2 separate regions of the Homo sapiens genome follow, and region 1 is linked to region 2. Evidence: fine-mapped expression QTL. Tissue or cell type: amygdala. Region 2 holds a variant in brackets; the other region holds the start of a gene. All regions are shown on one strand. Distances are from middle to middle.

What was found. PIP is the estimated chance that this variant, and not a neighbour inherited with it, causes the effect.
Region 1: LANCL1-AS1 starts here. The variant in region 2 is the best candidate, but not a certain one, in a credible set for the expression of LANCL1-AS1 in amygdala (GTEx, PIP 0.59).

What each region holds. Positions count from the first base shown.
Region 1 is chr2:210,322,592-210,327,591 of GRCh38, reverse strand. LANCL1-AS1 (LANCL1 antisense RNA 1) reads right to left here and starts at 2,880. Exons shown (of 5, transcript NR_110606.1): 1 at 2,758-2,880.
Region 2 is chr2:209,922,329-209,927,880 of GRCh38, reverse strand. UNC80 (unc-80 subunit of NALCN channel complex) reads right to left here. Exons shown (of 65, transcript NM_001371986.1): 35 at 5,498-5,552; 36 at 895-1,038. Among named protein-coding and RNA genes, the nearest start is that of RPE, 78 kb to the left of the region's middle. The variant G/A (reference allele first, on the strand shown) is at 2,390.

The sequences.
Region 1 (5,000 bases), 400 kb before region 2:
CCGTCTCTACTAAAAATACAAAAAATTAGCCAGGCATGGTGGTATGCACCTGTAATCCCAGCTACTCAGGAGGGAGAGGCAGGAGAATCGCTTAAACCTATGAGACGAAGGTTGCAGTGAGCTGAGATTTGCCTCTGTACTCCAGCCTGGGCAACAGAGCAAGACTCTCTCTCAGGAAAGAAAAAAAAAAATAGAGAATCCAGAAATAAATCCATGTATTTACAGCCTACTGATTTTTGACAAATGTGCCAAGAACATCCATTGGGGAAATGACAGTATCTTCAATTAATGGTGATGGGAAATTTGGATATCTACATGCAGAAGAATATAGGTATCTTCTATCTAAGCCCCTATCTTCACTACATCACATATTAATTCAAGGTACATTATAGACTTAAACACTTAAAACTATAAAACTACTAGAAGAAAACAGAGGGAAAACTCTTCAGTACATTGGTCCGGGCAAAGATCTTACACCTAAGACCTCAAAATCACAGGCAACAAAAACTAAAATAGACAAATGGTAGCATATTAAACCAAAAAGCTTCTGCATATCAAAAGAAACAACCAAGAGAGTGAAAAGACAACCTGTAAAATGGGAGAAAATATTTGTAAGCTATTCATCCAACAAGGCATTAATATCCAGAATATCAAGGAACTCAAACAATTCAACAACCAAAAAAAACCCCACAAATAATCATATTAAAAAGTGGGCAAAGGATATGAACAGATATTTCTGAAAGTAAGGCACACAAATGGCCATATACAAATGGTATATGAAAAAATACCCAACATCACTATGCATCAGAGAAATGCAAATGGAAACCACAATGAGATATCATCTTACTCCAGTTAGAATGGCTGTCATTAAAAAGATGAAAAATATCAGATTCTGGTGAGAATGCAGAGAAAAGGAAACTCTTAAACACTGTTGATGGGAAGGTAAATTAGTACAACCACTATGAAAAATAGTATGACGATTTCTTTAAAAACCAAAAAATAGAACTACCATACAATCCAGCAATCCTACTTCTGAGTATTTATCCAAAGGAAAAAGAAATCAGTACATGAATATGTGCACTTGCATGTTTATCTGAGCCCTTGTCACAATGGCAATAGGACAATAGCACTATCCAAACATCCATTTCTCTGTTGATAGACACTTAGGTAGAATCAATTCAGTAAACAATATAACCATGAGCACTGTCTCATGGAATTTATAGTCTAAGTGAGGACAATAATCAATAAATGATTCAATTATTATAAGCTATGAGTCCACCAAATGAAGTATTGCAATATGGGATGAGAGGAGTGGAACCTACTTTAGATAGGGTGATAAGTAAGACCCTTCTGAAGAGAGGACTTACTTCTAAGGTAAGACTTGAAAGGGAATAAAAACATTCATTCAAAGAAAGATTAGAAGAACAATTCAGGAAGAAAGAACAGCATATCATACTAAAGAATGAACTGAAGAAGGCCAGAATGTCTGTAGTCCAATATGTGAGGGGGAGAGTGGCAGGAGATGTTGCGGGAGCTCATCCATTTTTCATCAATATTCTAGGAAACATAAATCACTGGGAGAGGACACACTATGAAAATAACTCTACTCACACACCAGTCTGCTTTAGATAGGCCCTCTCCTTTACACCTAAATAAATATTTACAATTTGAGGGAAGAAATGGAATCAGCCTAAGCATAAGACATGAGGACTCAGAACTTGTTGGTTCCTCATCCTCCAAGCTCCAACCACAAGTTGTTTCTCCCTTTGCCAAGATATCTGGAATTTCCAGACTTGCAATATTAATGCACAGCCCTGTACATGGTCTTATATACCTATGATGACAGCCCAGTCATGAAGCTAGAGAAATGCAAAATAAGAAATTTTGCTAAAATTCTTTAGCAAAAGCTAAAGAATATGAAGACTAAATCTGAGGGAAACCCTAAGGTATATTGGATTTAACCATTATTGAAGACATAAAAAGGTTTAGTCAGAAAGTTTCTGGTGCTTCTCAAGGAATTAGTGACAGCTTTAGAGTGTGAAGACCACATTTCTTGAGTGTTCAGACTTAAAATTCTGTCTTTGTGTAAGACCTTTCAGACTCTGTTTGCTGAAGAAAGAGACTGAAATGTAAGACCTAGAAGTCATATTGTAACATTGCAGGCTAACCAGGTGTTGAGAGACCCCTTGCTATTTATTTAGCCATGTTGTAATGCCCTTTCCAATCCCAAATTCATTCTTGCTTCTAGAAGATTATTGAAGTGGGACTTGCGAGACATATAGTCTCTTTCAACAAACAGCAATATAATTCTTCCTTTACACATTCCAGGGAAGAAAAAAAAAATATCCTTTCCAGCTGGTACACAGGCTGTGATGCACTGGAACTACCTGAATCCTAACCGCCAAAAGGGCACCAGGGAGGATTTTAATATATGCAGTACGAGTGTGTCAAAAACAGCATCTTACGAGAGATTTAATCTGTTCATTTGAAAGAGTGCGGTACAAATGGTCCCGTGGGGCTCACCTCCAGGGCCGCCAACGATTTCACACTTGATGAGAATCAATATGTGTGCTTGGTCTTGACTACAAATATTTCATTAGAAGCTGAGAAAAGGGCCCCTGCTACCCCATTTTGCTTTCTTCCCGGCTTTACTGGTCCCAATTTCTTCCACGTCAGAAATGCCCATCACATTTCATATAAAAGAATGTATCCAGCAAATTAAAAAGCTAGAGACCTCAAGTTGAAATTAATACTTACAGGGTAACAGGTGTCTCACATTTTAAAAATCCTGGCACTGGTTTACAGCAGCATAAGAGTGCCCTTTGTGCTGTTTCCTCCTCTAGCAGAACTGCTCCAAACACAAGGACTGAGGCCGCCAGTCTCTCAAGAATGCCTAACGTGCCATAGGGTGGCCTCCTGGAGACATGAATACTCTCTTGGGCCCGAATTAGAAAACCTTGACCAGGACAAGTAGAAGCAAATGCACTGTCAGCCATGGGCTATTCTTATCCCTGCAGTTGTTGCCCATCTTCAAAATGGAGACAGCGAGACTCATGCTGTCTGAAGACCCTAAGACAGGCTTGACACAGGGTCCCTCTGTTTTTTTTATCCCACCCAATGTCATTCATTTTACTTTGGAAGGCAGTATTATTTCTTCTCCCTATCAAACTTTGTATTAAAGCATAACATACATTTGGAAAAATGCAGAAATCTTAAGTGTACAACTTGATGAATTATCACAAAGTGAACAAATTCATGTAACCACCAGCTCCTTCAACAAATTCATGTAAACACCAGCTCCTTCACTACCTGACCTTCCTCTCCACTACCCAACACTCCTCTCTACTACTATCCTGTCTTCGAATACCATCAGGTAGTTTCTCTTGGTCTTGAACTTTATATAAATGGAACCATAACACTGTGTGACACTGATCTATCTTATTACATGTACCTGTAGTTTGTTCATTCTTATTGCTGTGTAGTGTTCCATCACAAGGATATATGATATTCTATCCATTTTATTGCTAATGGGCATTTGGGTTGTTTCCAGTTTTGTGCAATTATGAATATCATTGCTAAAAATGTTTATGTACATTTTTTTTGAGACAGAGTCTTGCTCTTGTTGCCCAGGCTGGAGTGCAATGGTGTGATCTCAGCTCACTGTGACTTCTGCCTCCCGGGTTCAAGCAATTCTCCTGCCTCAGCCTCCCAAGTAGCTGGGATTATAGGTGCCCACCACCACACCTCGCTAAATTTTTGTATTTTTAATAGAGACAGGGTTTTGCCATGTTGGTCAGGCTGACCTCGAACTCCTGACCTCAGGTGATCCACCCACCTCAGCCTCCCAAAGTGCTGGGATTACAGGCGTGAGCCACCGTGCCCAACCTATGTACATCTTTATGCATATACATACACATTTGTGGGGGACACATGACTATGAGTGAAATTGTTGGCTTTTAAGATATGCACATGTTTAGTATTTATTCTTGGCCTTTTTGTCCTGGAGGGTGCTTTCCACTTAATTTCCCAGAAAAATATCAGCTGCCAAAATCTCTTTTGCCAGTTTGTTCTTGGAACTATGCTAAATATTGTAGGATGATGGTGAGTTAATGGGCAGTCATTGCCCTTGGACATTTATGCTCTCAATTCCTTCTCAGGAGGCAACCAAGAAGGATTTCTGATCAATAGTCTGACCATTCGGTTACTGTTTTCTTACTGCCACAGCCCCTTTTCTTGAGGTAGTCTCTGCATCGTGTGCCCTTTCTTGCCATGGTCTGGGATTTTCTGTCCCTTTCATACTCCCTCTCTCTTGCCAGAATCACATACTACAGCATCAGAATTACCCAGTGAAGCAATCTCTGAGCAATTTTAATCACTATAAATGTCCTTCCTTGAGAAATCCTACACCCCCACCTCCAGGGGAAGCAGCATGTTAACCATGTAAAGAATCACGCTGACTCAATTTCTACATGACTTACTATCTGCTTCATAAAACAAGATTCCGGAGCACTGGTTCCAGCTTGGCCCTGGATATATCATGACCTCTAACAAGGTAACTCTGAGAGCAAAAGAAGAAAAATACCAGTCTTCACTTACACAAGTATTGGATTTATTAACTGTTAAAGAAACAATACTAGTTAAAAACTTAGTGACGAAAGGAGTGTAAACATTTTAAAAAATCATCTTTATTATCCAGTCCCAGTCCTTTATCAAGTTTGCACTTAAACACCCATTTATTCTTAAAAGGAAACAGTTTACATTTTAAAATATTTTTGGAGTACCTCATAATCCCCAGTTAGAAAGTTATTTATTTTTAACCGAAAATTATTTCACTCATCCCTGTTAGTTTCATATAAAGAACAGCTGACGACTATTCTCTTAATAGCAACATTTTATTAATTAAAATTGCTTTTAAGCCACCTTTTTCTTCCTTCAACTAAGTACTGCCAAAGCCATTAACTTTTCAGAATGGGTTCTAATAGTCAATTTTGTTCATCCTC
Region 2 (5,552 bases):
AGGGATTTAAAGTCTTTCTAAATATTTTTTATTTTAAATAATGATCAGTGTACAATGTCCTTTATACAGCCCTCATGATTGTCTTAGGAAATTGCTAGAAGCCAAATCTGTGTCAAAAGCTTTTCACACTTTTAAGGTTTTTGATACATATCATGAAACTCTGTTCTAGAATGCTTGTACAGAGTTTTATACTTCATCAGCAAAGTATGAGGATGCTCTTTCCCCTGCTTTTTCACCAGCAATAGATATTTTCATTTAAAGTAATATTTGCCGACTTTCTGGCTGAAATGTAAGATTTATTACAGTTTTAAACAACGATGTTGTCTCCAGGTGTTACTGGCCATTGGATTGCCTGCTGATATCCTTTGCCCAGTTTTCTAATGGGGTTTTAAAAAATTATTAGTGAGTTATAAGAGCTTTTTAAAATGTAACGTTAAGAAATTAACCTTTGTCTGTCACAAATGTTACTCATCTTTTCCCTTAGTTTATCGTTTCATTTTGCAATTATTCTTTTTAGGTAGTTAGCACGTCAGGAAAGGTAATCACGTAAGAGAGATGGTATTAGTGGTGTCAAGCTAATAGCTAAGATTTCTAAGGTTTGATTTCTATGTGGCTAAATAATTATTGTGTTGTTCTGTTCTCTGGTCACGAACAATGCTCCTGGACCCAATTACCTATTTTAAATGCAATTTTTTTGGCCATAAAGGTAGAGGGAGAAGGAGGTGGAGAGAGTGATACTGTTAGCGCAGTATGTTACAAATCTGTAATTATAATATGTGCATAAAACAGTTCAACATGTGGCCAGTAGATAATGTGTTTAAGAGCAACCTACTGTCTTCTATCAGATAAACAGCTTAAGAATGTCACTGATGATCTGACTGTTCAAAACTGTACCTGCTACTCCATCTTCCCGCACCTCACCATCCTCCATCAGATGAACAATGGGAAGTACTGCTGCACAGATGCATGCTGGGAACACTGCTTGTGGGGGCTGAGGCACATGGTGGTTCGGCGTGTGTTCAGTGGTATGTTCCTCATCTAAAATGGGAGACAAAATCAGGGTGCTTTTCTCAGTAACGTAATTCTTTGTTGCTACTGTTGTTTTGAGATAGGGTCTCACTCTGTCACCCAGGCTGGAGTACAGTGGCATGATCACTGCTCACTGCAGCCTCGACTTCTTGGGCTCAAGAGATCCTCCTGTCTCAGCCTCCAGAGTAGCTGGGACCACATAGGTGTGCCACCACATCTGACTAATTTTTTTATTTTTTGTAGGATGAGTCCTCACTGTGTTGCCCCAGTCGGTCTTGAACTACCGGGCTCAAGCAATCCTCCCACCTCCACCTCCCAAAGTGCTGAAATTACAGGCATAAGCCACTGCATCTGGCCTCAGTAATATAATTTTAATGCAACATTTCTCAGTTCAAGGCATACTTATTTAAAAGCATAATCCTAGCAATGAGAAAATGCCAACATCTTAAAAAAGATTACGTTACACAAAGTGCCTCTTCATTTTATAACAAATAAAAAAAACCAGCCCACTTTCCGAGTACTATTATTCTTGTTTGGTAGAGAAGCGAAGCACAGACATTCTGGGACAAGTGGATCGGTTCACAATATTAAATTAATGAAGATAAAATTCTAAGCGGAGACTAAGACATTTTTCATAGATGCAACTGGTTGTGTGCATGTGAGTGTGTGAGAGATAGTAAGCAGTAATATGGGGTAGAAGAAAACACACATGCATTTAGGATAAGAATGACATAGCCCACCCATATTAATGTTTTCATCCTCATTGATAAATACAATAACAAATTAAAAATAAATATAATTGCATATAGGAATAAAGGAAAAAGGTTAGATTTAGTAGGCAAGGAAGGTAGAAAAGGTATTTAACAGCTTATTAATATGAAAATATACATGTCACTTTTCTAAAGCACTAAAGAATTGTGAGTGTTTGATTCTCAGATTAAAACTTACATGACTATTTGGGATTTTAGAAGGCCTATGAAGGACTAGAGGGTTAAGAGACTTATACTGTCATTCTCAGTCTGGGCTTTGAGAGGTGAAGCCAGCTGATCTTCTGGGTTGGATGTGGACTTGGAGAACTTTTGTGTCTAGCTAAAGGATTGTAAATGCACCAATCAGGGCTCTGTGTCTAGCTAAAGGATTGTAAATGCACCAACCAGCACTCTGTAAAATCGCACCAGTCAGTGCTCTGTGTCTAGCTAAAGGATTGTAAACGCACCAATCAGCACTCTGTAAAATGGACCAATCAGCGCTCTGTAAAAGGGACCAATGGATGTGGGAGGGGCCAAATAAGGGAATAAAAGCTGGAATAAAATAAAATAAGGGAATAAAAGCTGGCCACCCAAGCCAGTAGCGGCAACCC[G/A]CTTGGGTCCCCTTCCACATTGCAGAAGCTTTGTTCTTTTGCTCTTCACAATAAATCTTGCTGCTGCTCACTCTTTGGGTCCGCATTACCTTTATGAGCTGTAACACTCACTGTGAAGGTCCGCGGCTTCATTCTTGAAGTCAGCGAGACCAAGAACCCGCTGGAAGGAATAAATTCTGGACACAGCTTCGTAGTAGATGCATGTGGAAATCTTTAAAAATGTATATATATATAGTGGACCAAGCACTTCTGCAACAGTGGAGTATAGATCCCTGAAATCTGTTCTTCCGTAAAAGCAATGAGAATACTGTGAAATACACTTTTTTCGGAGCTTTCAAAATTTACCAAAAGCTTGGAACTATTTGAGGAGCATGTATTAAAAAAACAACAAAAAAAAAAAGGAAAAAAGACCAGTGGTATTTCTGGCTTTTTAACTTGTCCTACTCACCTCCCTGTCTTCCTAGGTCCTTAGGAGCCTTGAAAATTGACAACCTTGCAACCATGGTAGCTGTTAAAACCAGCAGCCTAGCAGCCACTGGATGGGCAGAGCAGTTTTGGAGCCCCCTAAAAGCCTCAACACCAGAGAATTGTCACTACTTGACCTATCTAGAACCCCATGGAAAATCCCTGTTCACAAGGTTTGTCTTTATTTAGCTTGACTTAAAGCTTAGTGCAAACAGCTTTATCCCCAGGGCATTTTCCAAAAAAAAAAAAAAATCAGCAACAATTATTTAACATTGTAGCTGTCTGAGGTGCTCATATGAGTTGGGAGAAGCTGGAGGCTGACAAAAATCTTAAAAGGCAAATCTGGAGAATGAGATTTCTAGGGGGCTTGCAAATCACTGACATATTCCTGGTTATCTAGATGGCTGTACATATGTACAAGGTTGTGCACATGCCCAGGAAAGACCTGAGAAATTCGTCATCTCTCATGTTTGGCTAACCTTGAAGCTCTACACAAGCAGAAAGTACAAAAATGAAGGGCAGAGTTTTAAACTACTGGAACACTGAAGATGTGCCTCAACACACCCAAAGTGGTCCTCAGTAAAGGCTGGAAGACTTATTAGTTCAAGGCACTTAAGAAAATCTCTGTCTAATCATTACCTGACCACTAATGTAACTGAGCAGGGATTTCAGTGCTCACACTCAACAAAGGCTTATTATGGACTTTACAAATTAGTCAAGGAAAGTTACTAAACAAACAAATAGCAACACAATAATAAAAAATCCTGATGAGGAAAGGGGGACATTTGATTTGCAGAGTTTCCACATTATATAATTTAAATTGTCCATTTTTCAATAAAAACTTATGAGACATATAAGAAACCCGGAAAATATTGCCCATATACAGAAATAAAAGCAGTCAACATAAACTAACCCTGAGGAAGCTTAAATGTTGGACTTACTAGACAAAGATTTTGTCAGCTATTATAAATGTTTTATTTTAATATAATGTTATGTTATATAAAACATATTATCTTATAAAGTTATTATAAGATAAAGATATAAATAAAACTGTGTCTTTCACATGGCATATCTTATATTTTAAAACGGCAGGCACATATCTTACCTTATCCAAAACTGCAATAAATGTAAACTGACTAATCAAAAGGCAAAATTAGCAGAATGGATAAAAACAAACAAATATGAATCAACTGTTATGTTTAAGAGACGTAATTTAGTTTCAAGGACACAAATAAGATGAAAGAAAAGGATGAAAGAAGATATGCCATACAGATAGCAATAAAAAATGATGTGGAGTATCTATGTTAACATCAGACAAAGTATACTGTAAGTGAAAAATTTTTACCACAGGCAAAACAGAGCATGTTATAATGACAAAATAATCAATGAGAAAGACACAACAATTATACAAATATCTGCATATCAAGATTTCATGGTACTGAGAGAAGGATTGACATACAGATCAGTAGAACAGAACTGAAAAACCATAAATATACTACTACATTTATGTTCAATTGCTTTTTGACAAAGGTGCCAAGAAAATTCAATGGAGAAAATGGTCTTTTCTATGAATAGTGCTGGGACAACTAGTTATCTAAATGCAAAATTCTAACTCATAACATAACACATATTAACTCAAAGTTGATTACACACCTAAATATAAATGCTAAAACTCTTAGAAGAAAACATAGGAGTAAATCTTTGTGACCTTGGATTAGACAAATTGTGACCTTGGATTAGACAAATTGCGACCTTGGATTAGACAATTGTTTCTTAGATATGACACTAAAAGCACAAATGACAAAAGAAAAACACACACATTGGACCTAATTAAAATAAAAAATTTTGTGCCTCAAAGTTACCTTTAAGAAAATAAAAAAGACACTCGCTTCTCAGCCTTTTGGCTAAGATCAAGTGAAGAAAGTAAAAAGACAAACTACGAAATGGGAGAAAATATTTGCAAATCATATATCTGATAAGTGACTTATATCCAGAATGTATAAATAGTTCTTATAATTTAACAGTTAAAAGACAAATTGCCCAATTTAAAGTGGGCAAAAGATTTGAATGAATACTTTTACAAAGAAGATATACATATGGTCAATAAGCATATGAAAAGATGCTCCATACCATTTGTCATTAGGGAAGTGCAAATAAAAATCACATTGAGTTACCACTTTATACCCACAGGGATGAATAAAAACAAAAACAAAAACAAAAACAAAAACAAAAACTAGTGACACACACTGAAATCAGCTGAGGAGGTTTTAAAAACACTGATGAGTCCTACCCTCAGAGATTTTGATTTGGTCTTAGGAACTTTCTTTTTAAGCTTCCCAGTTGGTTGTAATGTACTGTAGCTAGGTGGAGAACTATTAACTGTCTAGAATGATGTATTCTGAACCCTCAGCAATATGATTACATGCAATGTAATTAAAATAGAGCCAACTTAAAAATAACAATTGCTGAGGTAAATCAACAATTTTTTTTTAAAGGATGCCATGCTAATTTTTTTTAGAATGTCAAGTCATGAGACAAGTTATTTAATGAAGACAATGTAATCAAGTGAGATCATGATATTAACTGGAAAGTGTTTCAAAACACATAAGTCAGGAGAAATAAAACGTATGCAAGAGGACACACCTTCAGCACTGACGGCTGAACGCACTGACCAGACTGACCCGCGGCGGAAGGAATA